7 linked regions of the Homo sapiens genome follow. The protein of the gene in region 1 purifies or fractionates together with the protein of each later gene. This does not show direct contact. Each region holds a gene or a part of one and is shown on either strand. Other genes may lie near its edges.

What was found.
Region 2: the proteins of CHORDC1 (region 1) and PGD fractionate together in Homo sapiens (co-fractionation; one large-scale study listed by BioGRID). This does not show direct contact.
Region 3: the proteins of CHORDC1 (region 1) and SEPTIN11 purify together in Homo sapiens (affinity purification with mass spectrometry, with the first as the bait; one large-scale study listed by BioGRID). This does not show direct contact.
Region 4: the proteins of CHORDC1 (region 1) and AGPS purify together in Homo sapiens (affinity purification with mass spectrometry; one large-scale study listed by BioGRID and IntAct). This does not show direct contact.
Region 5: the proteins of CHORDC1 (region 1) and PLPBP purify together in Homo sapiens (affinity purification with mass spectrometry; one large-scale study listed by BioGRID and IntAct). This does not show direct contact.
Region 6: the proteins of CHORDC1 (region 1) and PRCC purify together in Homo sapiens (affinity purification with mass spectrometry, with the first as the bait; one large-scale study listed by BioGRID). This does not show direct contact.
Region 7: the proteins of CHORDC1 (region 1) and REPS2 purify together in Homo sapiens (affinity purification with mass spectrometry; one large-scale study listed by BioGRID and IntAct). This does not show direct contact.

Annotation. Positions count from the first base shown.
Region 1 is NC_000011.10:90,212,348-90,216,878, reverse strand, and holds part of CHORDC1 (cysteine and histidine-rich domain-containing protein 1), read left to right. Parts: intron 1-1,648; coding exon 1,649-1,705; intron 1,706-2,703; coding exon 2,704-2,861; intron 2,862-3,458; exon of another isoform or gene 3,459-3,523; intron 3,524-4,531. UniProt on the Homo sapiens protein: Regulates centrosome duplication, probably by inhibiting the kinase activity of ROCK2. Proposed to act as co-chaperone for HSP90. May play a role in the regulation of NOD1 via a HSP90 chaperone complex. In vitro, has intrinsic chaperone activity.
Region 2 is NC_000001.11:10,401,370-10,405,900, forward strand, and holds part of PGD (6-phosphogluconate dehydrogenase, decarboxylating), read left to right. Parts: intron 1-1,701; coding exon 1,702-1,767; intron 1,768-2,791; coding exon 2,792-2,910; intron 2,911-4,531. UniProt on the Homo sapiens protein: Catalyzes the oxidative decarboxylation of 6-phosphogluconate to ribulose 5-phosphate and CO(2), with concomitant reduction of NADP to NADPH.
Region 3 is NC_000004.12:76,955,723-76,960,253, forward strand, and holds part of SEPTIN11 (septin-11), read left to right. Parts: intron 1-3,001; exon of another isoform or gene 3,002-3,518; intron 3,519-3,549; exon of another isoform or gene 3,550-4,531. UniProt on the Homo sapiens protein: Filament-forming cytoskeletal GTPase. May play a role in cytokinesis. May play a role in the cytoarchitecture of neurons, including dendritic arborization and dendritic spines, and in GABAergic synaptic connectivity.
Region 4 is NC_000002.12:177,430,177-177,434,707, reverse strand, and holds part of AGPS (alkyldihydroxyacetonephosphate synthase, peroxisomal precursor), read right to left. Parts: intron 382-4,531; coding exon 291-381; intron 1-290. UniProt on the Homo sapiens protein: Catalyzes the exchange of the acyl chain in acyl-dihydroxyacetonephosphate (acyl-DHAP) for a long chain fatty alcohol, yielding the first ether linked intermediate, i.e. alkyl-dihydroxyacetonephosphate (alkyl-DHAP), in the pathway of ether lipid biosynthesis.
Region 5 is NC_000008.11:37,768,777-37,773,307, forward strand, and holds part of PLPBP (pyridoxal phosphate homeostasis protein), read left to right. Parts: intron 1-3,978; coding exon 3,979-4,113; intron 4,114-4,531. UniProt on the Homo sapiens protein: Pyridoxal 5'-phosphate (PLP)-binding protein, which may be involved in intracellular homeostatic regulation of pyridoxal 5'-phosphate (PLP), the active form of vitamin B6.
Region 6 is NC_000001.11:156,795,035-156,798,534, forward strand, and holds part of PRCC (proline-rich protein PRCC), read left to right. Parts: intron 1-2,241; coding exon 2,242-2,307; intron 2,308-3,500. UniProt on the Homo sapiens protein: May regulate cell cycle progression through interaction with MAD2L2.
Region 7 is NC_000023.11:17,019,260-17,023,790, reverse strand, and holds part of REPS2 (ralBP1-associated Eps domain-containing protein 2), read right to left. Parts: intron 1,669-4,531; coding exon 1,520-1,668; intron 1-1,519. UniProt on the Homo sapiens protein: Involved in ligand-dependent receptor mediated endocytosis of the EGF and insulin receptors as part of the Ral signaling pathway. By controlling growth factor receptors endocytosis may regulate cell survival.

The sequences.
Region 1 (4,531 bases):
TTCAGTTCATTCATTGGTTTTCTCAAATGTCACCTCTACGCCGATGGCTCTTACAACATATTTCTATTTATGTGTCTCATTGGCAACATCAAACCAGTTTCTAGTGTGTACCGTTTATTCCAAAAGTAGTCTGCCTCTCAACTTTACTGCTCCTAGTAATGATACTACTGACTTTCTGATCATTTGGTCCATTGCCCGTTTTTTCTCTTACCGCATTGTTAATCACTCCAAGTCTTAATGAATTCACTTTGAAGTATTTTTGCTTCTCTCTCTTTTGCAGTTGTAGTGTTTATTGTGGTCTCTATTTTATAACCATTTCTTAAAGTCCTAGACTTTCCAAGATTATTGGATTTCACAGTCCAGAAGATTTCAGACAAAATGCGTATACATCAATACAGGGATACTAGTTGACCAAGTAAGAAGTTAAACATTGCATTGACAAAAGAAATACTATTTTAATATTAGAAGGGGCATATTCAGAGAAAAGGACAATCTTGCTGAAAAAAGACAACTAGCAACCTTATATTCACATAACTTAAATTTATCTTTCCTTTTCTCATTGTACTGAAGACTAGCATAGAATCCAGATTGGCATTTGGGAACAGCTGGCCTGTATTGTATTTTACATGTGTGTATCACAGTATCTGACATAATTTAGTACATGATTAAGACAGTAAAACTTTTTCTCTTATAGAATAACTTTTCTGTTGACTATATTATTGATGCTATTTAAACCCTATATTTAAGGTTGTAGTAATTGATCTACATCTCAATTCGGAGTAAAAGATAATTAAATTTCAAATTAAAGGAAAATTTGAATTATAGGATATTTGAAATTACCTTTAAAGAAAAAGAACCTACAGGTGCATATAATGAGAAAAATCACTACCATATTTTTATGCAGTCTTTTGAAAATCAGCGAGGTCCAGGCGGATGTGTGCAAAGTTGCATCTTAATCTGAATTTAGTCCCAAATCTTAATCTGAAGTTCCAAGTTTTGAGATTTTGCATTTTTGTTTCCCTATGCTCTATAAACATTGGAATTTAGAGATAATTATTAAAGCCATTTTTTGGTAAACTACTTGATAGTTTGTTCAAAAATCACAAATACTAATAGTTTCTCTGTCTTTATGCTTCTCACTGAAAAGATCACCTTCAAAGGCTTAATAGTGCTTTAGCTGCTGTGTTAATTAATCTTTGTTGTTCTGAAAATAGAATGCTTATTGTGAAATTAAAATTAACTAAAGATAGTTACTATCTTTAACTTAATAGATTTTAAAAGTAAAATACCTATACTTATTTTGAATATTCTTTAAATATGATAGTTTTAGGAATTATAACATGTTTTTCTTCTAAAAAAAAAGCAGACACGATTGTTGAAAAGAGAAACAGTTTTTGTTTTATAAAGGTGCTTCCCTTGATGATAGGGCATAGCACAAATCACTTTAACATTGGTTAATTGGCTTTTTAAAAATCAAAGATTAATATTCATTTTACTTGATTAGGTGAATTATATGCAACACTGAAATTTTGCACTCTATACGCAAGTTACTGCAGGATTCAAGTAGATAAGTGCAAGTAGAGTGTTTTAGTGGGTCGTGTTTCTCATGCAAATAGAGTTTTTAGTTTCCTTCTCTTGTTTTTCATAGGGTTGGTCTTGCTGTAAGAGAAGAACAACTGATTTTTCTGATTTCTTAAGCATTGTAGTAAGTACTAATTATTTTTTCTAGATTATCTTCCTAAAAATACATGTTATAGAAAGCTTCAGATTTGAGGAGTCTGATTTCTGATATAGATTGATTGGTCTTCATCAACTTGCAGATAACACCTTTCAAAAAGCAGCTCATCTCCCTTCCACAGCTTGTAAAATAAAGAATCTGTTTTGGAAATTAACGTTTTAAGGTATCAGTTACCTGCTTATCATTTTAGGTTTGTTCTTTCTGTTATGTTGAAAGAACATCAAGGAGAAAGTGGTAAGCAACAATTTAAAGCCTTTTCAGTTAGGAACGATAAAGTTTTATCTAAGATGCTGTTGAAATATTTTACATACCACTTTTATATAAAACCACTTTATATACCACTAAGAAAACTAAAGCTACTAACAAACTGATAATGCTATTGATTGTATCATTTCAGAGGTGTTAAAGAGTATGTATAATTCAGTAGAATGTAGTAGAAAAGTAGCTAACGTTTGTTGAATGTTATCACCTGCCAAATGTGCCAGGCATTTTATTATTTAACTCTCTCAGAAAATATCTTACCTGACATTACCTCCATTTTACAAATGAGGAGATGGAGGTTTAAAAAGATTATCTTGCTTAAGGTCATATAACTAATAAGTATGTTGAGAACTAGGTCTCAAATTGAGGCCTTTCGAGTAACAGATTTTTCTGTATAACTATTTTTTACAGTTCTTTGTGAGATTCTCCAGAATTCTTCTGTAAACAAGAGGTTTATGCCATATTTTTAATAGAATAAGTAGATGTTTATGAAGTGTAATTCAAAGACTTTTTAAAAAAGCCGTCATTCAGAGATTCAGCAAATATGGCAAATTTGGAGTTCTGTTTTTAATTTCTTAAAATCAATGTATTGAAACTGGAGAAAACATGAAATAGAATCACTATCAATAAAGAACTGAAAAGATAATATTTCTATCATGAAATGTAAAATAGATAGCTCTTAATGAATTATCTTTCACTAACAGGGCTGTACAAAAGGTAGACATAATAGTGAGAAGCCACCTGAGCCAGTCAAACCTGAAGTCAAGACTACTGAGAAGAAGGAGCTATGTGAATTAAAACCCAAATTTCAGGAACACATCATTCAAGCCCCTAAGCCAGTAGAAGCAATAAAAAGACCAAGGTATACTTTATACAGTTACATATTTTTGTCACACTTGAATAGTAGCACTTGTGCATGGTACTTTCCTTTATGATTTAGCATGATACCATTTGTAGCTACTATGTAGGCCACCAAGCTTTGAACCATTTGGTTTCTCCCTTAAATCTGCCTTAAATTTTTATTTCTCTTCAACTTGAGAGCATGTACACAATATAACTACATAACAGATTTGCATATTGTACTGTCATAATTACAGGGACATGTATCATCAGGGTAGGGAAGTCACATTTTTCTTGTGCCTTAGAGTGCATCTTTTTCACTGTGGCATGGTAAAATTCTTTGAAGCAGTTTTCCTTTTCATGGCATGAGTTTGAAGTAGAAAATAATGCAGAGGCCTAATCATCCATCTTTACTTTCAGATGCCTGAAAACTACCGTTAATCTCATTACTACTGGTCAATTTTTAATGCATTTGATTTAGATGACATATTTGTGAAAGTAGTCTTAAAAAAGCGTTTGCTCATTGTGCAATAGAGTTGTACAGATTCTTCATACTTGCCTTCTGATAACCAGACTCTGTATTCCCACACATGTATATTGAGTACCTTTGTTGAACCAGGTCTTCTTCGTGCTACACTTGAGTACTAAATTGTTTTAGAAGCAAACTACAGGACTTAAAAAAAGGTGATTTTTTTTTTTTTTTTTGGCTGCAAGTAGGCACTTATTGTAATTTTTATTCATGCTATGAACTCATGATTTTCCCTTTATTCTCCTTTGATCCTACTTAAATAAATTTATAGAGTATTGAATAATATAGAACCAAGATAAGAACCCTAAGAGACTTTAGATGTTTATTTGTTCATTAGCACTCTGAGTACAGATTATTGCTAAGGAAACTACTCAGGATGATTTTATTCTCTCTCCATCTTCATAGTTAGAGGAGACCATTGAATGCTTTGGCCAGTTTAGCAGTTAGAAAAATAATTGGGAAAAGACAAAACTTCAGTCATGGCTCATTCTTAATCTCTTTAGTAATATAATACAGTCTGTACTATAATAGTATGAGTTAATTTTTTCTTTAAATGATGGGCTGTTATTTTACTTAAAGGGCAGTGAGAGGCCAGGCACTGTGGCTCAAGCCCATAATCCAGCACTTTGAGAAGCCTAGGAGGGAGGATCCTTTGAGCCTAGGAGTTTGAGAACCAATCTGAAAGAGATCCTGTCTCTCCAAAAAAAATAAATTAGCTGGGTTTGGTGGTGTGCTCATGTAGTTGCAGCTACTCAGGCTGAGGCAGGAGGATCTTGAGATTGACTTTTTGAAAAAAAAGGACAAAGGCAGTGAGATGAGAAAAACTAAATATTTTATCCTAAATTCATTTGGTGGTATTATAACAATTATGAGGATATCAGTTTTTACATACTTTTCTTTTTTTTAAGAAGAAAAGTCCCTCTCTTACCCAGGCTGTAATGCAGTGGCATTATAGCTCACTGCAGCCTTTAACTCCTGGGCTCAAGCCATCCTCCTCCCTAACCCTCCCCGGAACTATAGGTGTATGCTACTATGACTGTATTAGTCCATTTTCACAGTTACGAAGAAACACCCGAGACTAAGTGATTTATAAAGAAAAAGAGGTTTAATGAACTCACAGTTCCATATGGCTGGGGAGGCCTCACAATCATGGCAGAAGGTAG
Region 2 (4,531 bases), on another chromosome or scaffold:
AACAACTCTGAAAAAACCCAGGCACTCCCATTTAGAAGAAATGTTTTGCTGTAAGCAGTGCAGTGATAGCTCAGGGGAGGCTGAGCATTCCTTTCTAGAGGAGTCGTGTCAACAGTGGGGTTGTTTCCACAGGGAGAAGGATTTGTAACCAGTATGCCACTGTTTTTCAATCAAATGACCTAGAAAGGAAGAACACTGAGTTTAAAAAAAGGACATACTAAATTTTTTGTGTGGCAAGCTGCCTGTAATCAGTTTCAGACAGAGAAAACTGAAAAATGGTGGATTATTCTTCAGTATAGGAAAATACTAAGTAATGTTAACTGGAGCCTTGTAGGGGGAAGATTGAATAATATAATGAAGCCCAGGCTGGGCGCGGTGGCTCACGCCTGTAATCCCAGCACTTTGGGAGGCAGAGGTGGGTGGATCATGAGGTCAGGAGATCGAGACCATCCTAGCTAACACGGTGAAACCCCATCTCTACTAAAAATACAAAAAATTAGCCAGGCGTGGTGGTGGGTGCCTGTAGTCCCAGCTACTTGGGAGGCTGAGGCAGGAGAGTGGCGTGAACCCGGGAGGCAGAGCTTGCAGTGAGCCGAGATCACACCACTGCATTGCAGCCTGGGTGACAGTGCGAGACTCCGTCTCAAATAAATAAATAAATTAATTAATTAATTAATAAAGTAATAATAATAATAAAGCCCAGCCTGGTTGGTGTGCTGTAGGTAGATATTCATGTTCAAGGCTCTGTCTCTTCCTGACCTCCGAACTGTTGTCATAAAATCATTCATTCATACACTAAACCATTTGATATGTATTTACTGAATCCCCACTCTCTTCTAGACACATTATAGTCAGTGTTTAATCTGTATACTTACTTAAAAATAGAAATGGGGTCTTGCTATGCTGTCCATGCTGGTCTCAAATTCCTGGGCTCAAGCGATCCTCCTGCCTCAACCTCCCAAAGTGTTGGGATTACAGGTGTGAGCCACTGAGCCTGGTCAGCCCTAAACTTTTAAATAGTGTGCAGCTCTGGCCACAGAGAGGATTATTGAAGATTAAGTAGGCTGGGTGCGTTGGCCTCCTGCCAAGCCAGGAGGCTTTTAGCCCAGGAGTTTGAGACCAGCCTGGGCGACATGGTGAGACTCCATCTCAAAAAAAATTTTTTTTTTTTGAGACGGGGTCTCACTCTGTCCCCCAGGCTGGAGTGCAGTGTTGCGATCTCAGCTCACTGCAAGCTCCACCTCCCGGGTTCACGCCATTCTCCTGCCTCAGCCTCCCGAGTAGCTGGGACTACAAGGCGCCTGCCACAACGCCCGGCTAATTTTTCGTATTTTTAGTAGAGACGAGGTTTCACCATGTTAGCCAGGATGGTCTTGATCTCCTGACCTTATGATCCACCCACCTCGGCCTCCCAAAGTGCTGGGATAACAGGCGTGAGCCACCGCGCCTGGCCTACAAAAAAAATTTTAAAACTAGCTGGGCATTGTGGTTCAAGGAGTTCAAAGTTGCAGTGAGTCATGTTCACACCACTGCAGGAGTTCAGGGTTTCAGTGAGCCATGTTCGCACTCCTGCATTCCAAGCTGGGCAACAGAACGAGACTCTTTTTAGACTATGTTTATTTGGAATAAATTCTTGTTTGTTTTAATTTGCCAAGGTATGTTTCATTTTTGGTCCATCTTAATGCTGGTGTCTGGTTACAGGTACCATTGTTGGATACTGGTGACATCATCATTGACGGAGGAAATTCTGAATATAGGGACACCACAGTAAGTGTTCTTCAGTCCAGATTCTTCCAGGTTCCGAGAACATTCTAGAAAAAAGTGTCAGCATCGCATATGTGACAGTAGGGTGAACTGCCCTGTGGTACTGATTTTTTTGAGATTACTACTGATACAATAGTTCTCAGCCTTTTTTTCTGTTAAGACACACTTAACAGAAGGGCCGGGTGTGGTGGCTCACACCTGTAATCCCAGCACTTTGGGAGACGGAGGCAGGTGGACCAAGAGGTCAAGAGATCAAGACCATCCTGGCTAACATGGCGAAAACCCGTCTCTACTAAAAATACAAAAAATTAGCCTGGCATGGTGGCATGCGCCTGTAGTCCCAGCTACTTGGGAGGCTGAGGCAGGAGAATTGTTTGAACCTGGGAGGCAGAAGTTGCAGTGAGCCGAGATCATGCCACTGCACTCCAGCCTGGGCGACAGAGTGAAACTCCATCTGAAAAAAAAAAAAAAAAAAAAGACACTTGGTGGGTGAGATTCTCAGTCACACATACAACTCAAAGGATGACTAACTCAGATACAGCAGGCTGAGAATTACGTTTTAACTCCTCCCCTTCCCCTTCCAAGTAATCCATGATATGTCAGTCTATAACTGGTTTAGAACCACTCCTCTAATGGTATCAAATGCTGAGGGAATTCCTGTGTGCTCTGAAGTGCTGAATGGCATTAAGTTGTATTACACCTACTCTTCGTTGAGTCTTATTCAAGGTCTTTTCCAGTAAAATGCCAATGTGTGTTTGGCTTAATTATTTTACTTTGGGGATGAGGTAGGTATCGTGAATGTCCATAGTTGTATTGTTTTGTTTTTTAACTCCTACACATAGGGGATTAACTTTCCTGAGTCATCAGTTATTCCTAGATCCTTGGGTCATTTCCTGTAAATGTAGGCTCTCCATTCCTATCTTATACTTCCTCTCATTTATAAGGGAAACATTTTTGGGTAGCATAATGAAACATGGAAGCATAATGAAACATGGAAGCATAATGAAATTATTTTTCTGTCCTTCAGAGACGGTGCCGAGACCTCAAGGCCAAGGGAATTTTATTTGTGGGGAGCGGAGTCAGTGGTGGAGAGGAAGGGGCCCGGTATGGCCCATCGCTCATGCCAGGAGGGAACAAAGAAGCGTGGTGAGTGCCATCAGCACTGTGCCCATCTCTGTACAAGGGAGCTGGACTTTGAGAACGAATAAGCCAGGAGCAGTTCTGCCACCCTGATCTCTGTGGTGCCCTGAGTGTGACAGCTGGGAGATGCTGGCAATTTCTTTTATCTAGACATTTTGTTGCTTTGATATAGTATATGTGCACAATCCTCTTTTGCCTTTTTTCTTCTGTTATTTCTATCAAGACTGATACCTGACGTTCTAAATAGGCTTTTTTTTTTTTTCCCGCCCAGGCAGGAGTGCAGTGGTGAGATCTTAGCTCACTGCACCCCCCGTCTCCTGGGCTCAAGCAATTCTTGTGCGTCAGCCTCCTGAGTAGCTGGGACTACAGGCACATGCCACCATGCCTGGCTAATTTTTTGCCTTTTAGTAGAGACAGGGTTTCACCATGTTACCTTGGGTGGTCTCGAACTCCTGACCTTAGGCGATCTGCCCGCCTTGGCCTCCCAAAGTGCAGGGATTACAGGCATGAACCACCACACTTGGCCTCTAAATAGGCTTTAAGGAAGCAGTTTAGGTAATGTTCTGTGCAATGTCTGGATGTAGGAATAAGGTCTGCCTCTTTTAGCTGATATATAACCCAAAAGTAACTTAATGTGATAATCGTGGGTAACAGGCTGGGCATAGTGGCCCATGCCTGTAATCACTGCCCAGCACTTTGGGAAGCTGCGGTGAATGATCATTTGAGCCCAGGAGTTGAAGACTAGCCTGGACAACATAGCGAGATCCTGTTTCTACAAAAAAGTAAAACAAACATTTTTTTAATTAAAAAATATAAATTGGCCGGGCGTGGTGGCTCACGCCTGTAATCCCAGCACTTCGGGAGGCTGAGGCAGGCAGATCACCAGGTCAGGAGATCTAGACGATCCTGGCCAACATGGTAAATTCCTGTCTCTACTAAAAATACAAAAATTAGCCGGGCATGGTGGCGTGCGCCTGTAGTCCCAGCTACTTGGGAGGCTGAGACAGGAGAATTGCTTGAACCTAGGAGGCAGAGGTTAGTGAGCCGAGATCGCGCCACTGCACTTCACCCTGGCGACAGAGTGAGAGTTTGTTTCAAAAACAAAACAAAACAAAACAAACAAAAAATACACACACACACACACACACACACATATATATAAATAATTGTGGGCAATCCGATATATATATAAATAATTGTGGGCAATCCGCTTGCCCTGGCCTCCCAAAGTACTGGGATTACAGGCGTGAGCCACCGTGCCTGGTCTGAAATATGATTCTTTAAGGCTGGGCATGGTGGCTCACGCCTGTAATCCCAGCACTTTGGGAGACTGAGATGGGAGGATCACTTGAGGTCAGGAGTTCAAGACCAGCCTGGCCAACATGGTGAAACTCTCTACTAATAATACAAAAATTAGCCGGGCATGGTGGAGGGCACCTCTAATCCCAGCTACATGGGAGGCTGAGGCACAAGAATCACTTGAACCTGGGAGGCAGAGGTTGCAATGAGCCGAGATCTCACCACTGCACTCCATCATGGGTGACAGAGCGAGACTCGGTCTCAGTAAAAAAGAAAAAATGATTCTTTTTTTGAGACGGAGTCTTGCTCTGTTGCCCAGGTTGGAGTG
Region 3 (4,531 bases), on another chromosome or scaffold:
CAAATTGAACCCTTAAAGAATAGAGGAAATGAAGACTGACAGAGGACACAGAGAAGGAGAGTCCAGTGACAACATATGACAACGACAATGCTAGATCTTCCTCTGCCCAGTTTTATGCATTGAGCCTTTCCTCAGGATTCAGAACTAGAAGTTATTATTTTCTTAGACCTAAGCAACTGAGTCCTGAAGAGTGTGGTGGGGCTGGGGGGGAAGATGGTAGGACTCTTTCCACCTTGGACTTCAAGTGGCAATCAGTGTTCTCCAAAAAGGAAATTAAAAACTCATTGGATTTTATGAAAACAGGAGAAGAGTCTGTTAAAAGCCAGGGTTTACTTAAGACTTCATGCTGTTTTAGTTATCTCATCTCTTTGAGTACTGTCTTCATACCAGTATAAATTTTGTGAATCTCATTAAGGTACTCATTAAACTTACTCTGACCTGCTGTTGGAGGGCAAAAGGCTTGACCAAAAACTTCTGTGCACGGGAAGCTTGTTCAGCATCTTGATTTTCAAATTTATTCAATTCAAATTACTGTCAAGACAATTATCTCACCTTATACTCACAAAATACCTGAGAAGTAATATAGAGAAGGAAAATGAGACAGGAAGAAGTTGTCAGTTAATCTGCTACAGCAAATTTGTGGGAGAGCTAGGCTTTGGAACCAAAGGCTTTTAGACCAACATGCATACAGACCTCCCATCTGATTCAGTCAGTTAAGCTAAATTATGTTGCGGTAACAAATTGGCCCCATGTTTTGGTGGCTTACATAGCAAGGGTTTATTTCTCATGCAGCTGTTCCACCCTCGGAGGTCTGCTGCATACTGCATTGCCTCCAGGACCCAGGCTGAGGGAGTATCCTCTATCTGGGCATTGCCAGCCTGGTGGCAGAGGACAAAGAGACATGCTGAACCCTGGCTTCTCAAGAGCTGGCTTCTCAAGCTCTTAGATGGGTCACTTCCATGCAGATTGTATTGGCCAAAGTAAATGGTCATTCCTAAATTCAAAAGAATGAGGATAGAGAATCCTCCTGTAAAGAGTGGCTCTGAAAGACCCTTGGGCTGGGGAAGTAAATCCCCCTCTAGGGAGGGCAGTGAATATTTTGAATAACAGTTGGCTAGATTCCTAGTCAAGGAATCTACTATGAAGCCAAGTCTTTATTTTTAAAATTGTATCCCTGTCTGTAAGGATTTTTCTCCCTCTATTTGGCCTGCTCTGATTCTAGCTGGGCATAGTAGAATGATGTGTGTGTGTGTGTGTGTGTGTGTGTGTGTGAGAGAGAGAGAGACAGAGACAGAGACAGAGAGAGATAAGAGTTAGGCAGCCACAATGAATTGAAGTCAGAGTGAATTCTCCTACTCACTGGTGATGAGCTTCCAGGGACATCACCATCAAGTAAGTCATGGGTGGTAACCTTCTGAAAGGCCTTCTGTGCTGCTCTCTGATGACCTCAGCTGTGGAAGTGTACTCTCTGGGAAATGGTTCTGAGGCCATTAGGACTTCCAGCTGCTTGACAGAATGATTTCCCTTGGGACCTCGGCCCTTTGGACCTTTCCCAGCCATATGTCCCTAAATGCAGATGAATCAGATGGCACCCTTCTTTCCCTTGCTCTGTTTTTCTCTCTACTGAGAGGCCATAGTGTATAGCGTTTGGGTGAAAAATGTGGGCTCTGGAGCCAGGTTGCTCCGGTTCTAGAGTATCGGTTTTACCATTTAACAAGCTTTGTGTCCTTAGGCAAGTTACTTCCCTCATCTGTAAAACACTAACAGTACTTCCCTCAAAGAGTTACAGATTAAGCCAGTTAGTACACACACAGTGCTTACACTGCTGCCTGGAACATTCATCCTCAATAAAAGTTGGTTATCTGAGGAAAATGGTGCTGAAATAGTAATGGCTTTATACTGAAGACTGGGCTCAAACCAGAACTGCCACTCCACTCCACCCCACCCCAGTGGGAACTGAGCAATTGCCCCTTCTCTTGCACACCTGAACCACACAGGCTTCCCATTTTCTAATCATAGCACACCTTAGAGGCACGGATCAAGCATACCCTCCATGAAGCCTCCACCCATGAATCACCAAAATTTTGGCGATTTTTATTTATTTGAATTGCTGGCAACACTTATGTGTCATCCACATAGTGCTCTGGAGTCCCCACCCCACCTTTCCTTAAGTTACCTTTTTTAAAAAAAGTGACTGTCAAATATAATTGTGAACATAAAAACACAAAACAAAAAAACCTTATTACCTACCATAAGCAATATGTTCCACTAGCCCTTGACCACATTCTTGCATTCTTAGTCTAGATAGCCAGACTTAAGGGAAAGGACTATATGTCCTATACCCCCCACCAATAAACATTTGACTCAATAAGTGAAAATTCACCCTTCAGATAAATTGGATAAGACGTATTGTCTAAGACGTGTGCCTACCTGGCTGTTGCTGTGTCAACCCCCGGTAGGTGTAGACCTCGCAAGTCCACTTTCTGCCCCAGGCTTCTCTGCCATCGCCACCTGGGTTCTGCTTAGCTATTCTGACCTTTGTGCACTTCTGGACATCCAAAGGAGTTGCCATCCCAGGGGGCAACCCCCTTGAGATGGTGGATCTACATGGCTCCTCAATTGACCTGGCTCCTTAGAAGTTCCCCTCTGGGCCCCAGCCTCAGCCCTCAGGGGTGATTACTCTACAGTCCCCTTAGGGTGGCCTTCCCTCTTCCCCTGTTTCACTTTTCCCTGTCCCCCATTCTGTTCCCCTGGGTCACTTCCCAGGACTCACATGCATGCAAGTCCCTGTCTCAAGTCCTTGCATTTTGGGGAAACCTAGATGAAAACGCCTTGTTTACTAGTGTGGGGCTCGTCTTTTCCTTATACAAATAAGGGAGTATGAATGTTAATTTTGTAATATACTAAGCTACTTTGGATGTTTTAAAAAATACTCAGAACAAACTGACTTTTTACCAGGTTTTCACTACTATTTGTAAGACGCGGTTTTTGTTGTTGTTGTTGTTAGAATTAATGTTTTATTGTCACCCAGATGGCAATTAGGTTTATAATCTTCATACTTTATGTTTTTTGTAAATTAAAAAAAAATAAGTTTTAAATAGTCAATGGCTGGTTATATTTTCAGAAAACATGATTAGACTAATTCATTATGGTGGCTTCAAGCTTTTCCTTATTGGCCCCAGAAAATTCACCCACCTTTTGTCCCTTCTTAAAAAACTGGAATGTTGGCATGCATTTGACTTCATACTCTAAAGCAACATCCTGACAGTCATCCACATCTACTTCAAGGAATACCATGTTGGAATACTTTTCAGAGAGGGAATGAAAGAAAGACTTGATCATTTTGCAAGGCCCACACCATGTGGCTGAGAAGTCAACTACAAGTTTATTGCCTGCGGTGTCCAAGGCTTCCTGAAAAGCAACCTTGCTCTTGATCGTTTTACCATTCTTGGCTGCTGGGGTCTGATGAGCAACTGTAACGACCGATGGAAACGGATCCAAAGCACTGGACTGAGCTTGGACAAGACAAGGTTTTTTTTTTTTTTTAAAAATAATAATAATTATTATTTTTAATGGATACAGAGTCTTGCTATGTTGCTCAGGTTTGTCTCAAACCCCTGGCCTCAAGTGATCCTCCTGTCTAGGCCTCCCAAAATGCTGAGGTTACAGTTATGAGCCACGGGCACATGGCCAGATTAAAAAAGTAGACTCAAAAAAAAAAATTTGTATCGCATCACCTAGACTTTTCTATAATTTTCATTTCTGATTCTTTGGGATGGAACTCATAATCTCTCAGGGTGGCACTACTTGCTTTTGAATCTATAGTGCCTATTTTGTTCTGTAATGGGTTTAATTTACCCATTTCAAGTCAATTGCATTTTTATATTCTAGGATCTAGATCCAGAGTGAATGGGGGAAATTATGGTTTTGATACATGAACTATGAACTTAGGACAAAGCTTAAAACTCTTTTGAAAAAAAATAATCAAAGTTTTGGGCTTATATTGTCTGCATAAATTGGAAAAATGGGGTAATAAGAAACAACTTTAATTAGCTAACATTGAACAGTTTTAAGGATGGGGATTAATGTAGTATTTCCCTAAGAGTGTTTATTTTATTTTATTTTGAATTTTTTATTTTTGTGGGTACATAGTAGGTATATATATTTATGGGTTACATTAGGTATTTTGATGCAGGCATGCAATGTGTAATAATCACATCAGGGTAAATGGGGTGTCCATCACCTCAAGCATTTATCCTTTGTGTTTCCAACAATCTAATTGTACTCTTTTAGTTATTTTTAAATGTACCCCAAGAGTTTTTAAGAGAATTGTTCAAATGATCACTGCACTTCGTGTAAGCCATTCTCAGAGGCAGTTTCTGAGAATGTCATGGAAACTACGTAAACCAAGCTGATTCATTTTTAGATTCTCCTCACGTTTGTCACCTTTGCTCTCATTCTTTGAGGTGTTTGGTTTGACTTACGTGGGTAGGCAGTCTAAGACTAGTACTTTGGCCTGATAATTTGATTG
Region 4 (4,531 bases), on another chromosome or scaffold:
ATAGGCAGAACAAATAGTTATTACTCCCAATTCTAAAAATAACCAAGGCTCAGAGAGGATAAAAAGTTTGCCAGATAAATCTCAAATAAATTCTGAGACTAAGGTCTATATCTGTGACAATGAATAACTGCCGCTAACAGTCTAACAAGGCCAATATAATTAATAGGCTTTATAACAAAAAACATGACAGTTGCAGTAAATCCAATATAATGAATTACAAAGATAAATCAAATTAATTTGGGTTTTAAAAACACAGTTAAATGAGTTAGTAATAATTTTTGTTTGCTTACTTTAGAGGTAGTTTTATGCTCCACATTTACTCCAAGGGTATTTTGGATCCATTCTTTAAATGTTGGTAAACCCATGCCACTAAGAGGGTACCTAAGGTACAAAGAAAGTAAAAATATTAGAGCAAAGTATCTTCATTTAAATTTAAAGCTTAAATTCTGCTTCCAGTGATGGTCAAGCAGCTACTATCAAACCAACACTTTCACATGTAACTATAAACTCTGAACGAAAACAAAACAAACAAAACCCAGCTATCTAAAGGCAGTATAGACAGACCAAAAGCAGTCAAAAATAGGGGAGAAGGGTGTGCTACACTTGAAAAAAGGAAAAAATACTACATAAGTTCATAAGTTTCCAGTTTGGTTTTGTTTTTTCCATAAGTTTTAGCCTTATGGCAGGCCCCAGCTGGTGCCTCAAAAGGTAATAAAAATGCTGAAAATTTACAGTCTTCCTGGCTTAAAGAACCAGAGCACAGTGTTTGGGGTGAATGCTGCATCTGGAAAGCATACCGAGAAATCACAGAAAGAAGCAAGTAAGAGAGGAACCAATCTATCAGCTCTCTCCAAATGTCTGGCTGACTCTGAATAGCATGTATAGAATACATACTGGAATCTTCTAGGCAGCCCAGTTAAGCTTAAAAAAAAACTGGACAGGCAATTCAGCTGCTCACCACAGGGAGACAGAATTTAGAGTTTCAGATCAGTCAAGTTAATTGCTTGATTTAAGAAAAAAAAAGTCTTTTAAAGGTCTCTTCAGAGGAATATAACAGAATCCACAGCTCCTACATCATATCATGTACAATGTCCAAAACACACTCCAATATTACTAGACAAGAACAAACTGGAAAGTATGACTCATATTCAAGAAAAAGGACAATTAATGATGACTGACCCCAAAATGACCCAAGATACTGGAAGTAGCACACAAGGGTTTTAAAGCAGCTATTGTTGCTACGCCAATGGACAAAATGGAAAATGTACTCCTGGTGAATATTAGAAAAAAAATCTTAGCAGAGAAATAAAAAACTATAAAAAAGAACACAACAGAAATTCTATAATTGAATCTGAGACATTCCATTGGCATCTCATTACAATTTTAATTTGAATTTTACTGAGTACTTATGAAATTGAGCATCTATTCCTATAACTATTGTCCATTTGGATATCCTCCATTTTGAAAGCCAGTTCAAGTCTTTTGCTCATTTTCCTCCTGGGTTATTGTTTTCTCAATTACATGTAAGAAATCTTTATATATTTATAAAATGAAAGATACACATATTAGACATTTTCTCTTACTCTGTGATTTATCCTTTCACTCTCTTAAAGGAGTCCTGTAGTTTGGACACCAAACCCTCCAGACCTCATGTTGAAATTTGATCCCCTAGTGGGAGGTGGTTGGGTCATGGACGTATATCTTTATGAATAGATTAATGCCCTGGGGGAAGGGAGAGAAGTGTGAGTGAGTTGTTAGTTCCCTCAAGAGCTGGTTGTTTAAAAAGAGCCTGGCACCTCCCTACCATCTCTCTCTTGCTTTCAGTTTCACCATGTGATCTCAGCACATACCAGCTCCCCTTCCCCTTCTGCAGGACTGGAAGCAGCTTGAGGTCCTCACCAGAAGCAGACCCTGATGCCATGTTTCTTGCACAGCCTACAGAACCATGAGCCAAATAAACCTCTATTCTTTATTAATTACCCAGTCTCAGGTATTCCCATAAAATAAAAAGGTGACCACCTTCAAGATACTTGAAACTACAGATACAGAGTTAGTGTTACTATCATGTATAAAATTTAAAACTACCTTCTATCACTAAAATAAAGTCTTTATATCTCTATATCTGAATGCACAATATTTATTTAACACTCAGAAGACTGTACTTAGCATTGCAGAATACATGGAATTGGTATTATGACTCCTGTTTTTAAGAAACTTGCAACCTAGCTTAGTCAAAGCTACAGCAACATTTAATTTGTGAGATGAACACATGGGCAGAGAACATGAAACTTTAACCAGAGATGTGATAAAGGGAAAGTTAAGCACTTATACCAATTGTTGAATCACAGTGACTACTGAATGGATCTTCTTCTTTTCCATGACTGAAGATTAGTTTGAGAATATTAAATGGCTTTTGTTGTAAAATATAAGGTGAGATCAATTTATCACTTTCCCATAGGGCTGAAATAGACTATATTATAGAAGATACAGAACCAGAACAAGTTTTCAAGGCCAATGAAATCATTCTACATGGAAAGAAAAAATTCTGTGGACAAAAATTATCCAAGAGGGAAGTGCACATCAGGACTGACAATGACTAAAAGCAAAGTGACTCTCACTCTGGGGCAGCACATAAGAAGCAGCAAAAATATTAGTATATGTTGTGGGAAGTCAGGGACCCCGAACAGAGGGACCGGCTGGAGCCATGGCAGAGGAACACAAATTGTGAAGATTTCATGGTCATTTATCAGTTCCCAAAATTAATACTCTTATAATTTCTTATGCCTGCCTTTAATCTCTTAATCCTGTTATCTTCATAAGCTGAGAATGTAGGTCACCTCAGGACCACTATTGTACAAATTGACTGTAAAACATGTGTGTTTGAACAATATGAAATCAGAGCACCTTGAAAACGAACAGAATAACAGCAATTTTAAGGAACAAGGGAACACAACCAAAGGTCTGACTGCCTGCGGGGTCAGGCACAATAGAGCCATATTTTTCTTCTTGCAGAGAGCCTATAAAAGGACGTGAAAGCAGGAGAGATATCGCTGAATTATTTTCCCAGCAAGGAATATTAATAATTAATACCCTGGGGAGGGAATGCATTCCTGGGGGGACGTCTATAAACAGCTGCTCTGGAAGTGTCTGTCTCATGCAGTTGAGATAAGGACTGAAATTACGCCCTGTTCTCCTGCATTACCCTCTGGCTTATTAGGGTGGGGAAAAGATCCCGCTCTGGTAAATTTGAGGTCAGACCGGTTCTCTGCTCTCGAACCCTGTTTTCTGTTGTTTAAGATGTTTATCAAGACAATACGTGCACAGCCGAACACAGACCCTCATCAGTCATTCTAATTTTGCCCTTTGCCTTGTGATCTTTACTTTGCCCTTTGCCTTGTGATCTTTATTGCCCTTTGAAGCATGTGATCTTTGTGACCTACTCCCTGTTTGTACACCCCCTCCCCTTTTGAAATCCCTAATAAAAACTTGCTGGTTTTGTAGCTCAGGGGGCATTATGGACCTACCGATAATGTGGTATCACCCCCGGCGGCCCAGCTGTAAAATTCCTCTCTTTGTACTCTTTCTGTTTATTTCTCAGACCAGCCGACACTTAGGGAAAATAGAACCTATGTTGAAATACTGGGGGTGGGTTCCCCTGATAAGTATATACAATCATCTAGCCTCAGGGTGAGTTCCACAATTGCTAAGCAATTTAACAGCCTTTTTATAATCAGATAAAGCTTCAATTAAAAATTATGCCATCAAAAAGACAAAGTCTAACAAACTCAAATTTTTCATTTATATACTAACTTGTGATTTCTAAGTACCAAACTAATGTATAATACCCATAAAGTCAAAAATAGTGACATTTTTCAAAAATTTTAGTTTATAGAAATCTATAGGGACTGAGATGGCTGATTAGAAGCAGCTGTGATCCGCAGCTGTCATGGAGAAGAATGAAAATAGCAACTGAATTCAGCACCTTCAACTAAAATATCCACGTTCTCACATCAGGACTGACTAGGCAGACAGCTGGACCCATGGAGAACAAAGAAAAGGAGGGTGGGGTGATGATCCAAGTGGGAGAAGCATGGAGCCAAAAGAACCCCCACCCCCAGCCAAGCAGAGCAGTGAGAGATTGTGCAACCCCACCAGGGAAACCACACTTCTCCCACTCCATATTTGTAACCTGTGGATCAGGAGATCCCCTCATGACCCCACACCACCAGGGCCTTGGGTTCAATACACAGAGCCGTGTCTCAAAAGAACAGTCACTCAGGCTCGCACAGTAACCCAGGAGTTTTACAGACTCCACCCTAGGAATCCCAGCAAGGTGGAAGATCCATCTGCTCACTCCCCTAGGAGGGGGACTGAATCCAGGGATCCAAGCAACATTGTTCTGCAGGCCACACTTCCACAGCACCTCACAAGTTAAGACCCACTGGCTTGGAATTCCAGCCAGCCAGTGCAACAATCTGGAGACTGCCTGAGATGGATGAGTTCCCTGAAGGAGGAGCAACCACCATTTCTG
Region 5 (4,531 bases), on another chromosome or scaffold:
TGATTTTCATTAATAACGAATGATGTTGAGCATCTCTTCATGGGCTTATTGGCCATTTTTATGTCTTCTTTGGAAAAATGTCTAGTCAGTCCTCTGCATGTTTTTTAAATTGAGTTGTCTTTTCATTATTGAGTTGTAAATTCCAGCTAGATTAAATAATCTAACTTGAAAATAAAAGCTATAAAAGTATTAGAATAAAATGCAGGAAAATATTTTTATTTTCTTGGGCTTTTCTAAGCAAGACATAAAATCTGGAAACCATAAAAAAAACAACTAGGCCAGGCACAGTGGCTCACACCTGTAAATCTAGCACTTTGGGAGGCCAAGGCAGGTGGATCACTTGAGCCCAAGAGTTTAAGACCAGCCTGGGTAACATGGCAAAACCCTGTCTCCACTAAAAATACAAAAAATTAGCTGGGCGTAGTGGTGTGTGTCTGTGGTCCCAGCTACCTGGGAGGCTGAGGTAGGACGATCACCTGAGTCCAAAAGGTTAAGCCTGCAGTGAGCTGTGATTGTGCCACTGCACTCCAGCCTGGATGACAGAGGAGACCCTATCTAATAATAATAATAATATTAATAATAATAAATTTTAAAAGAACAACTAGCAGATTTGATCACACAAAAATTAAAGCTTTCTGCATGTCAAAGCAAAAGGGAGGCACAGAGTGGAAGAAAAATAATATTTTTGAAGAGGGAAGAGATTCATATCCAGAATACATAAAGAGCTACAAATCTTTTTGTTTATAGGGAAAAAAAATAGGCAAAAACTGGGGCAATTTATAAGGGGTAAAAATACAAAAGGCCAGTAATCAAATGAAAAATATTCATCCTCAGAGAAATACAAAATCACTAATCAGATTTGTAAAAAATCAAAAAGACTGCTAAGATCCAGTGTTTTGAGGGAGTGAGTAAATGAGTACTCCTTCGTCTTACCAGGAGATTCTAAAACCGTAGAGTCTTGGAAAAACATAAAGATTCCACCAAAAAACTATTATAACTGAAAAACAACTTCAGTAACATTGCAGGATACAAAATAAATATACAAAAATCAGTAGCATTTCTATATGCCAACAGTGAATGATCTGGAAAAGAAATCAGGAAAGTAATCCCATTTACAATAGCTACAAATGAAATACCTAAGAATAAACTTCACCAAAGAAGTGAAAGATTTCTGCAATGAAAACTGTAAAACACTGATGCAAGAATTTGAAGAGGACATGAAAAAATGGAAAGATATTCCATGCTCATGAATTGGAAAAATCAGTATTGTCAAAATGTCCTTATTGCCCAAAGCAATCTACAGATCCAGTGCAGTCCCTATCAGAATACTAGTGACATTCTTCACAGAAATAGAAAAACACAGTCCTGAAATTTATATGGAACCACAAAAGACCCATAATAGCCAAAGCCATCCTGAGCAAAAAACAAAGCTGGAGGAATCACATTACCTGACTTCAAATTATACTGTAGAGCTATAGTAACCAAAACTAGCATAAAAACAGACACATAGACCAATGGAACAGAATAGAGAACTCAGAAATAAATTTGTACATCTACAGAGAATTTATTTTTAACAGAGGTGCCAAGAACATACATTGGGAAAAGGACAATCTCTTCAATAAGTGCTGCTGGGAAAACTAGATATCCATATGCAGAAGAATAAAACTAGACTCCTATCTCTCACCATGTACAAAAATCAAATCAAAATAGATTAAAGACTTAAATCTAAATCCAAGACCTGAAACTACTAAAAGAAAACATTGGGGAAACTCTCCAAGACATTAGTCTGGACAAATTTTGTTTGTTTGTTTGTTTGTTTTGAGACAGGGTCTCACTCTGCACCCAGACTGGAATGCAGTGGCATGATCTCGGCTCACTGCAACCTCCATCTCCTGGGTTCAAGCGATTCTCCTGCCTCAGCCTCCCAAGTAGCTGGGATTACAGGCACGCCCCACCATGCTGGCTAATTTTTGTATTTTTGGTAAAGACGGGGTTTCACCATGTTGGCCAGGCTGGTCTCCAATTCCTGACCTCAGGTGATCCGCCCACCTCAGCCTCCCAAGGTGCTGGGATCGCAGGTGTGAGCCACTGCACCTAGCCATGTTAGAAATATGTAAAGGTGATGGGAGGAGGGAGCGGGGAAGGAGCCAGCAGGCATAGAAGGGGCAGGAAAACCTAACAGAACTGTTGTTTTAGTGCCATTTTCCCTTCTGGATGATCCGTTATACTCATTCAACCTCACAGCTCAATTCATTTCCATAAAGGCTTCTTGAGGCCAGATGCAGTGACTCACACCAGTAATCCCAACACTTTGGGAGGCCAAGGTGGGAGGATCACTTGAAGCCAAATACATATATGTATATTTCTTTCTTTTTTAGTCTTTCTAGTCTTGCTCTGTCACCCAGGCTGGAGTGCAGTGGCGTGATCCCGGCTCACTGCAACCTCTGCCTCCCAGATTGAAGGAATTCTCCTACCTCAGCCTCCCGAGTAGCTGGGATTACAGGCATGTGCCACCAGGCCTGGCTAATTTTTTTTGTATTTTTAATAGAGACAGGGTTTCACCATGTTGGCCAAATGGATCTCAAACTCCTGGCCTCAAGTGATTCGACCACCTCGGCCTCCCCAAGTGCTGGGATTACAGGCGTGAGCCACAATGCCTAGCCATCTCTGGCTAATTTTTTTATTTTTTGGTAGAGACAGGGTTTCACTGTGTTGGACAGGCTGGTCTTGAACTCCTGGCCTCAAGTGATCTGCCCTCCTCAGCCTCCCAAAGTGTGGGGATTACAGGTGTGAGCCACTGCACCTGACCTTGACAAAGATTGCTTGAGTAAATACTCCAAAAGCACAGGCAACCAAAGCAAAAATGGACAAATGGGATCACATCAAGTTAAAAAGCTCTTGCAGGCTGGGCACAGTGGCTCACGCCTGTAATCCCAGCACTTTGGGAGGCCAAGGCCAGCAGATCACGAGGTAAGGAGTTCAAGAACAGCCTGGCCAACATGGCAAAACCCCATCTCTACCAACAATACAAAAATTAGTGAGGTGTAGTGGTGGGTGCCTGTAATCTCAGCTACTTGGGAGGCTGAGGCAGAAGAATAGCTTGAACCCAGGAGGCAGAGGTTGCAGTGAGCCAAGATTGTGCCACTGCACTCTAGCCTGGGCGACAGAGCGAGACTCTGTCTCCAAAAGAAAACAAGCTCTTGCAGAGCAAAGGAAACAACAAAGTGAAGAGACAACTCAGAATGGGAGAAAATATTTGCAAACTGCCCATCTGAAATACTTGTACATAGCACCAAGTTCTATATCCAAGCTTTGTTTTTGTAATAAAAAATAAGAAACAATCTAATATCCATTAACGAGGAATAGTTATGTAAACTGTGATAATCTGTCCTGTGGATTGCTGCAGTTTTTTAGTAGAGATGGGGTTTCACCATGTTGGCCAGGCTGGTGTCAAACTCCTGACCTCAGGTGATCCACCCACCTGGTATTACACGTGTGAGCCACCACACCTGGCCAGTGTTAGGGTCATGGTGATGTCCTTGTTGGATAAGAATACCCTCATCCCAGAAAGTTGAAGAATTGTGGTGATATGCTAGGGAAGCATCTTGGCTTCCACTGGTCATCCTTTCTTCATTGTCATCCTGACCTGTTTCTCTCAGTTTGAACTGAGACATAGATCAAGCCTTTTACTAGGAATCTGTCCGTTACCAGCTTCTTGAAGCTTATGGATGTATATGCTGCCTGATCATGTATGTCAGCTTTTCCCTTATTTACCTTTGCTGATTAGCCAGGGATGGTCTGACATTTGAATTTGTATCTAGTAAAACTGTCACATTTGTCTTCTCAGAGGAACTGAGATTTAACTGTGTTTTTCTTTTCCTGGCATATTTTTTCCTCTAACAAGTCAGAGATTTGTTGCATGTTACTTGCTGCAATAGAGCAAATAAGGAATACTACTTTGCCTCTGTCTCATTACAGCTGTCCCCAATCTCTTCATGCTGGAAACAGTGGATTCTGTGAAGTTGGCAGACAAAGTGAACAGTTCCTGGCAGAGAAAAGGTTCTCCTGAAAGGTTAAAGGTTATGGTCCAGATTAACACCAGCGGAGAAGAGAGTAAGTAACCAGACCTGAATTGTAGATTTTTCTTCCTTTAGGATGGTTGAAGCTTAGGGAGAATGGGTGGGCCCAAGTGTCTGATGGATAAGGTTATAGAAACAAATCACAGGATCACAGGCCTCTAAGTTGGCTGTTTTATGTGTGATCTAGGTAGCATAATGGCATGCAAAGCAGTCTATGTATCATTCTTTACTACATCATGGTTCATTATATCTTAATTTTAGGGGAAGAAGAATGGATGGGGAGTTCAAGAAGGGGATTGTGACTTCGTTTTGTATTTTTGTTTTTTTTTTGAGATGGAGTCTTGCTATGTCGCCCAGGCTGGAGTGCAATGGTGCGATCTCGGCTCACTGCAACCTCCGCCTCCCGGGTTGAAGCAATTCTCCCACCTCAGCCTCCCAAGTAGCTGGGACTA
Region 6 (3,500 bases), on another chromosome or scaffold:
GCTGAGATCGAGTAGTTGGTGAGGCCTCCCAGCCTGTGGTTGTGGCTTCTTCTCAGGCTGCACAGAATCCACAGCTGCTCTACTCTTGCCGTACAGTCAGATCCTTCTTTCCTTTTTTTGATTTAAAGTTTTTTGCTTTTTTTGTTTTAATTTTTATTCTTTTAAAATACTATCTTCTTCCTTTCCTTCCCTCCCTCCCTCCTTTCCTCCTTTCCTCCTTCCTTCCTTCCAATTGTTTTCATTTTCTGGTGTTTTTTTTTTTTTTTTTTTTTTTTCAGAGTCTCACTCTGTTGCCCAGGCTGGCATGCACTGGCTCAGTCACAGCTTATTGCAACCTCTGCCTCCCAGGCTCAAGTGATCCTCACACCTCAGTTGCTGGGACTACAGGTGCATGCCACCATACCAATCTAATTTTTGTATTTTTTTGTAGAGTTGGAGTTTCACTATATTGTCCGGGCTGGTCTCGAACTCCTGGCCTCGAGTGATCCACCTACCCTGGCCTTGGCCTGCCAAAGTGCTGGGATTACAGGCATGAGCCACTATACCCGGCCCCGGTTAGTTCATTGTTTCAAGCTGGGACCTGGCTCAGCACATTTTTGAGGTGTGGGCACAACAGCACCTCAGAAATCCTGGAGTCCCTAGATTCTGAGCATGCAACTCTTCTGTGTTCTCTTCATTATTGATGGTAGCCAGCTGTAGTCTTTCCAGTGCTTTTATTCATCACATTTCCCACACCACACTCCTGCCTTCTCTGTCCTAGTTTTCTTCAGTCAGTATGATGAACATTTCTTCACCTAGTAGCTGAGAACAGCAAATGTGGACATTTATGAGCCTGCCACCGGAGGGGAAATGTGGGAAAACCCTGGACTTGAGCCCAGCACCAGCGAGACCAAGGTCGAGGATTTTGTTCCCTTTTCCTCCCCCCATTTGCTTTGCTTTGTTCTATGGCCACAGATGGCCACACAAGCCCCAGCCGTTTGTTTTAACTGAATGCTGGCGGTCATACAGGACAGAGCAAAGGACTGTGGTTAGATCAGCATAGATCCATCACTGTTTACTGGAAAAACCACTTAGGAGAGCATGCTCTACCAACTGTGGGTCGAGAAGCATAGTCACATAGTAATAGCTACTGTTGTTAATGCTCACCGTGGGCCAGGAATGGAGCTGGATGTTTTATGTGTGTCATCTTTAACTGTCACATTAAATGACATTAAATAGCAGCAAGCAATTAGTATTTGCTATTTTCCTATCTCCAAGTTTTCTTGCCACCGTCTCATTATATTGAACTAGATTTTGTTAAAAGGAGAAAAAGATATGGTCCTTGTCCTTGAGGAGTTGACAGCATAGTTGGGAAGAAGAGATTTAAGGACACTTGAGTGTAAATGATTACAGTACAGATTGATGACATAAGTGCTGAGGAGACTCTAGAGAGGAGTTTTGGGAGTTGGGTGGAGATGATTAGGAAGCTTCTAGTCTGAGACAACTCTGGCAGAGGACAGAAAAACCGCAGAATGAAAGCCCAGACCAATATAGACTTTGACAGTAAATCATTTGCATCGAAGTTTGGTTACGGGTTCAGTGCAGTTACGGGCGGAGGCTGGAAGACTGGGGAGAGGTAGAGTGATTGTGAAATTTCTAATTCCAGGGAAGCTGCTGGCACTTACTAGAATGGGGAAGGCAGGGGTTTTAGCCAGAGGTGATTGATGGGAGCGAGCTTGATAAGCAGTAGGTGGGAGACAGGCTAGACATCTGGCTTGACTGGGGAGAGGGGGACAGAGATGAAGAGAGTTTGAAGGGAGATGGGCACAGGGATTGTGGGAGGGCCTGGCAGGGGGGCAGAAGGTCACCTGTGCCCTGGCCCACAAACTGTTTCAGACTGACTGCACGCAGTTAAACTGGTCTCAGATGTCCACAGCAGACAGAACCCCATGCTGGGTGCTAGGGGTGGGGTGGGATTACCAAAGACGCAGAAGACAGTCCTGACCTCAAAGCATTTCCAGTCTAGTGGGGGATATTAGCAGGCTATTTCAGGCAAGTGTTCTGAGCTGGGTTTTTTGTATAATGGCTTTAATAAAAATAAAGGCTTTGTAGTATATAGAGGTAAAAACAGCTCCAACTTTTCTCCCCCAGGATTTGGGCTGTGGAATTGGCTTCTCAGCCCCTAACACCACACCATCTGGGCACATGAGAAACTTCTGCTTTCATCCTGTGGATTAATGAATATGTTTTCTTCTCTTGCAGAAGAAAGGTGAGCAGCCAACAGGCCAGCAGCGGCGGAAACACCAGATCACATATCTTATTCATCAGGTGAGAGACAGCTGAGGGCTCTGGCTCAGGCAGGATCTCTGTAAATCTGGGAATTTGAAGGCTGAGATACGAGTTAGAAGCCCAGATGCTTATCTTTTAGCAGCCCATCTTTTAGCAGGCATCCTCTCCTATTCTCAGAGCGGCCACTAGGAGGGGATACATCCTTCAGAATTATCCTGCTCTACTTCAGTCTCAATGCAGATAAGATTCAGGTGCAGGTGCTTAGAATAAAACTCTTAAGTGAAAATCCAGATATCCAAAACATAATGTAAGAGGAGAGTGAAATGGTTTATCATAGGGTTCTTTTAAATAGCAGGTTTCTCTAGTAATTTAAAAAACTTAAAAAAAAAGTTGATTCACCAACTTAGCCAAACATCCACCTGATGAAGAGGTTGGTTTTATATTCTTCACTTCTGTGGCAGGGAACATCAACACAAATAATTCAGAATTACAGGTAATCCAAAAATGTCTTTTGAAACTGGAATATGTCTTGGTATTTATTTAATATGACTGGGCAGCTTTCAAATACAGTTGACCCTTGACCAACACAGAGGGTTAGGGATGCCAGCACCCTAAACAGTCAAAAATCTGCGTATAACATTTTTTTTTTCCCTTTTTGGAGACAGGGGTCTTACTCTGTCACCCAGGCTGGAGTGCAGTGGTACAATCATGGCTTACTGCAGCTGCCGTCTCCTGGGCTCAAATGATCCTCCTACCTCAGTCTCCTAAGTAGCTGGGACCACAGGTGTGTGCCATCACACCCAGCTAATTTAACAATTTTTTTGTAGAGATAGGATCTTCCTGTGTAGCCCAGGCTATGTGTATAATTTTCGATTCCCCTAACAGCTAACTACTAATTGCCTACTGTTGACCAGAATCCTTACCGATAACACATATTTTGTATTTTGCAAAATGTGCTGGGTTGTCACACCTGCTGGCATAGCTGCAGCGATAGCAACAACTTCACAAATTTCCTTTTTTTTGAGACAGAGTCTCGCTCTGTTGCCAGGCTGGAGTGCAGTGGCACAATTCCTTTTCTTTTTTCACAGTGGTCCTTATGCTAGATTCATTTATCTTGAAGTGGCAGGCAACTGCAGCTGCAGACCCCAGTCTACGGAACGTACCAAACAAGTCAGCTTTTTCTTGTAATGTCATGACTTTTCTCTGCTGCTTGGGAGCACTTCAGCATGACT
Region 7 (4,531 bases), on another chromosome or scaffold:
GGGCCTGGAAATTTCCCAGGGCATCAACCACCGTGGGACAGTGGACCCTCATTCCTCTCCAAATGCTGGTGGGAAAATATGCCAAAGAATATTGACTGAAAATTCCTATACCTCTTCCTTTTTAAATATATCCCTGAAGAACTGATTTAAAATGTGTCAGAATTATGAAAGTGACAGTACATGGAATTGTTTAACAGGATGTGCTACACCTCCCCTAACTATCCATATAAAACTTCTGTAGCAACACCTCATCTACACAACATCACAGGGTAAGTCACAGAAGTTAGTTTTCCAACATAATCATTTAATATTCATTGCATTTTAAAAACATTTTCATTCGAGTGTTCCTTTTTTTTTTTTTTTGAGACACAGTCTTGCTCTGTGGCCCAGGCTGGAGTGCAGTGATGTGATCTCGGCTCACTGCAATCTCCGCCTCCCGGATTCAAGCCATTCTCCTGCCTCAGCCTTCCAAGTAGCTGGGACTACAGGCACATGCCACCACGCCCGGCTAATTTTTGTATTTCTAGTAGAGACAGGGTTTTGCCATGTTGGCCAGGCTGCTCTTGAACTCCTGACCTCTTGTGATCCACCCGCCTTGGCCTCCCAAAGTGCTGGGATTACAGGCGTGAGCCACCGTGCCCAGCCTCAAGTGTTCCTATAATAAATTTCTTTACCTTATAGAAGACACTATGTTGAACATAATTTGACTTCTCTGCATGATTCAGTATCTTTGCTGGAAGTATGAGCTATACCTTGATGCCTGCAGGGTACACCAATGTGTAGACTATTTACTTCTTCTGGATCTGCCCACTCTTCTGAGATTTTATACTGTTGTCTCCACCAATCATCATCTGACCATTGCAATTAGTGGTCTAATTTTAAAAGCCTATCCTCCCTGTTCTGGTTCCAAACCTGCTAAATGGGTAATGGCAGCATTTCCCAAGATAGTATTCCAAATATGTTCCCCAAGAAAGAATTTCCTGGTGAAAGAAGTTTAGTAAACACACATTTCCAGGTCTCTTCACTGCAGAACTTCTCAGGGCTTTTACCGTGCTAATGTGCACTACGAATTTCCAAGACTGAGGATTTAGTCCTTCCCTCAACAAGGGAATATGAAGCAGCATTCTCCAAACACATTTATTATAATAGGAGAAACCTTTTCTACAGACTTCTTTTTGGAGAAGAGAACCTATTAAAAACTCCTGGAAGTTACATTTCCAAGAATCCATTTAGAAAACCACTGAGCTAGTGAAATCAATAAATGTATTAAATCGGTAGCCTTATTTTAGACACAATTCTACTTTAAAGTAGGCTCTAAAGGGCCCTTAAGTGGGTGGTGGTGATTCATATGTGTCGGTCTCTCTTTCTTGCTAGGAGAAAACTTTACTGGCTCACTTCCAAGTCTGTAATTGGGTTCCAGATGGTGAGATTTGCTGGAAGCTGAACAGTAGATACGAGGCCCTGCTACATGCGGTTTCATGGTCAGAATCAAATGAACACATCTGAACAAACTGTTTACCTGTTTATCCTCATCGTCCATTCTTTTGAAGGAATTTTTTTCTGTAGTTAAATATGGAATCTGAACCTTAGTTCCATGCAGCTCAGCTGGGTTCCCAAATCGTATCTCACCATCATTCTTTGACATCATAAAGCGAGGCAGAGGCAATTCTTTGGGACCAGAAATCAGAGAAGCTCTAGTCAGACTTAATTTAAAAACTGCAAAAAAGGGGAACTCAATGGCCAAACGATGAATCATTTTTGAGGAAAAATTCCAGAGCACTAAATATAAATTTAGATTTAGATACAATGAGTACTCCTATAATAACGTCCTGATTTTTAAAATGCTATGGTTTAACCAAAGTATTCTGGCTTAACATTTTTCAATGTTGCCAAATCGCAGAATAAATTCAGATTTGGGACTGATCTCCCATTTCATCCTTCAATAACCAAGAAAAAGGATATGACACTGTATAATACAATAATAAGTGACAAATGGTGGCAGGTAAAATTCATATAATGCTTAAATATGCCAGGCACAGTATTAAAGATTTGCAAATATTAACTCATTTAATCCTCACAACAACTCTGTATGATAAAACTATCATTACCACCCCCTCATTGCAAAAGTAGAAACAGTCATAAAGGAGCTAAGTAATGTCCCCAGGATCACACAACTCATCTGTGGCAGAGCCACGGTTTGAATGCAGGCAAGCTGGTACTTTACCAGTGCTCTACAGAATGGTCCCTTGTTCCTATGGCAAACTTAGTGGGTAGAACAGTTTCTCATCCTATGTAATTCTTTAAGGAATTTTCACATCCAATCTCTGGTTGTCTTTTCATAATGGAATAAGGAAAACAATATCAAGTCAGAGCAATCAATCTATCATTCAGCCACATTCTTCTGTCAAAACCATTAGCCACTCAAAATGCTACAAAGAGTTGAAAAGCAACGGTCTGGTATATTTACTCATCTTTCAAAATTCTAACAAAACTATTCTGAAAGCGGAAATGATACTTTGGCACACTTCTAGTTCTCAGCACATCAAATCACACACAATCACGTAGCACAAAACCCTACAAAAATGGGGACATTATGGATTATGCATAATGATTTGCATCTGTATCCATTGTTCAGGATAATACTCATCAGTGTGCCTTTGCACTTCCATCAGCTCTCTATTCCAAAAACACAGCTGCACTTTCAATGACTGATGCTGTGCTAAGGCCAGAAAACATCTTAGCAACAGCAAGCAAGTATCCTAGAGTTCCCCAGGCAAAGAAGGCCCCTGGTTCTCTAACATCCACATGATGTTTACTTTTAGTTGCTATGTTCACATTTGATTCAAAGCAGCAGGCGGCCGGGCGCAGTGGCTCACTTACGCCTATAATTCCAGCACTTTGGGAGGCGGAGGCGGGTGGACCTCCTGAGGTCAGGAGTTCGAAACTAACCTGGCCAACATGGTAAAACCCCGTCTCTACACAAAAATACCAAAAATTAGCCAGGCGTGGCGTCAGGCGCCTGTAATCCCAGCTACTCAGGAGGCTGAGGCAGGAGAATTGCTTAAACCCAGGAGGCGGAGGTTGCAGTGAGCCAAGATCATGCCATTGCACTCCAGCCTGGGCAACAAGAGCAAAATTCTGTACCAGAAAAAAAAAAAAGAAGCAGGCAATATGACAAATCCCTGTGTGATCAATCAGCCAAGGGCCCAAGAGACATAAATAGAGTAACCAATCTTAATGTTTCCCAATCTCGGGCAGCTCTCCAGCACTCAAAGCAGGAATGGGCTTCAAAAGCAAAAAAGCAAGAGAAAAGAAACTCTAGATTCTTAGTAAATCAAATATAAGCTAACTCTATGGTTTTGGTCTCAGGTATGTGCTCCAGCTCAGTCAGGAAAAAGGATCTAAAAAGATGAAACAAGATCACATAAAATAATTTGCACCCTGATCTACCCATAAGAGGATGACTCTACTTCCAAGTACTTCTTGAGGGAGAAAAGAAATAAATGCTCAGTATTTATAAGCTCCCTGACCAGTGCCTTACTGGCATTCAACAGATACCTCCAAGGAACAATGGAATACACTAACTGAATTATGAATATCAATTATTATATTAGGACTTAAGTAGGGCTCCCAGATATTGTCTAGGACATTGTCACTTCACACATTCTTCCACCCTGTCTATGGCATTTCTTTAGAGCTATGTGCCTAGAAAACCACCTCTCTCCCCCAGACAGCCACCAAACAGCAAAAGACAAAATACAGCTGAAGTTCTCTCATACTTTCTTTGGTCAGGTGGTTCCAAGCAACTCTCACTTAACAGAAGTATAACCATACATAATAATATTCTTATCATGGAAAACTTTCATGAAGGTGCCATTTCCCTTAAACTGATGCAAGCTTTTAAAAAGTGAAAGGTAAAAGTAGTTTGTAAATTTTCAGTCTGAATGTTTTTTTTGGTTTTTGTTTTTTTGAGACAAGGTCTGTCTCTCAGACTGAAGTGCAGTGGCACTAACATAGCTCATTGCAGCCTTGAACTCCCAGACTCAACTGATCCTCCTGCCTCAGCCTCCCAAGTAGCTGGGACTCCAGGTGCTTGCCACCATGCTGGCTAATTTCTTTTTTTATTTTTCGTAAAGATGGGGTCTTGCTATATTGCCCAGACAGGTCTCAAATTCCTGAGCTCAAGCGATCCTCCCGTCTTGGCCTCCTAAAGTGCTGGGATTACAGGCATGAGTCACCATACTCAACTGAATGTTTTTCCTAGTCACACATACACAAAATTTAATAGTGAAACTTTGAAAAAATTAATCAATAAAGTACCTGCTATACAATGATGTCTGTCAAGAAGAAGGTCTATTTGTAGTCATTGGTTAGAATCTTGTCTCCCAAACTGAATTGAATTACACACAGCAAACAAAGTAAGAGTTCACACTAAATGTTTAGAGGGTCTGAGGAGACAATGAGAGTGGCCATCCAAGATGACAATTTGCTTCATTGTTGTTTCATCTTAGGTTACATTCTTTGAACACAG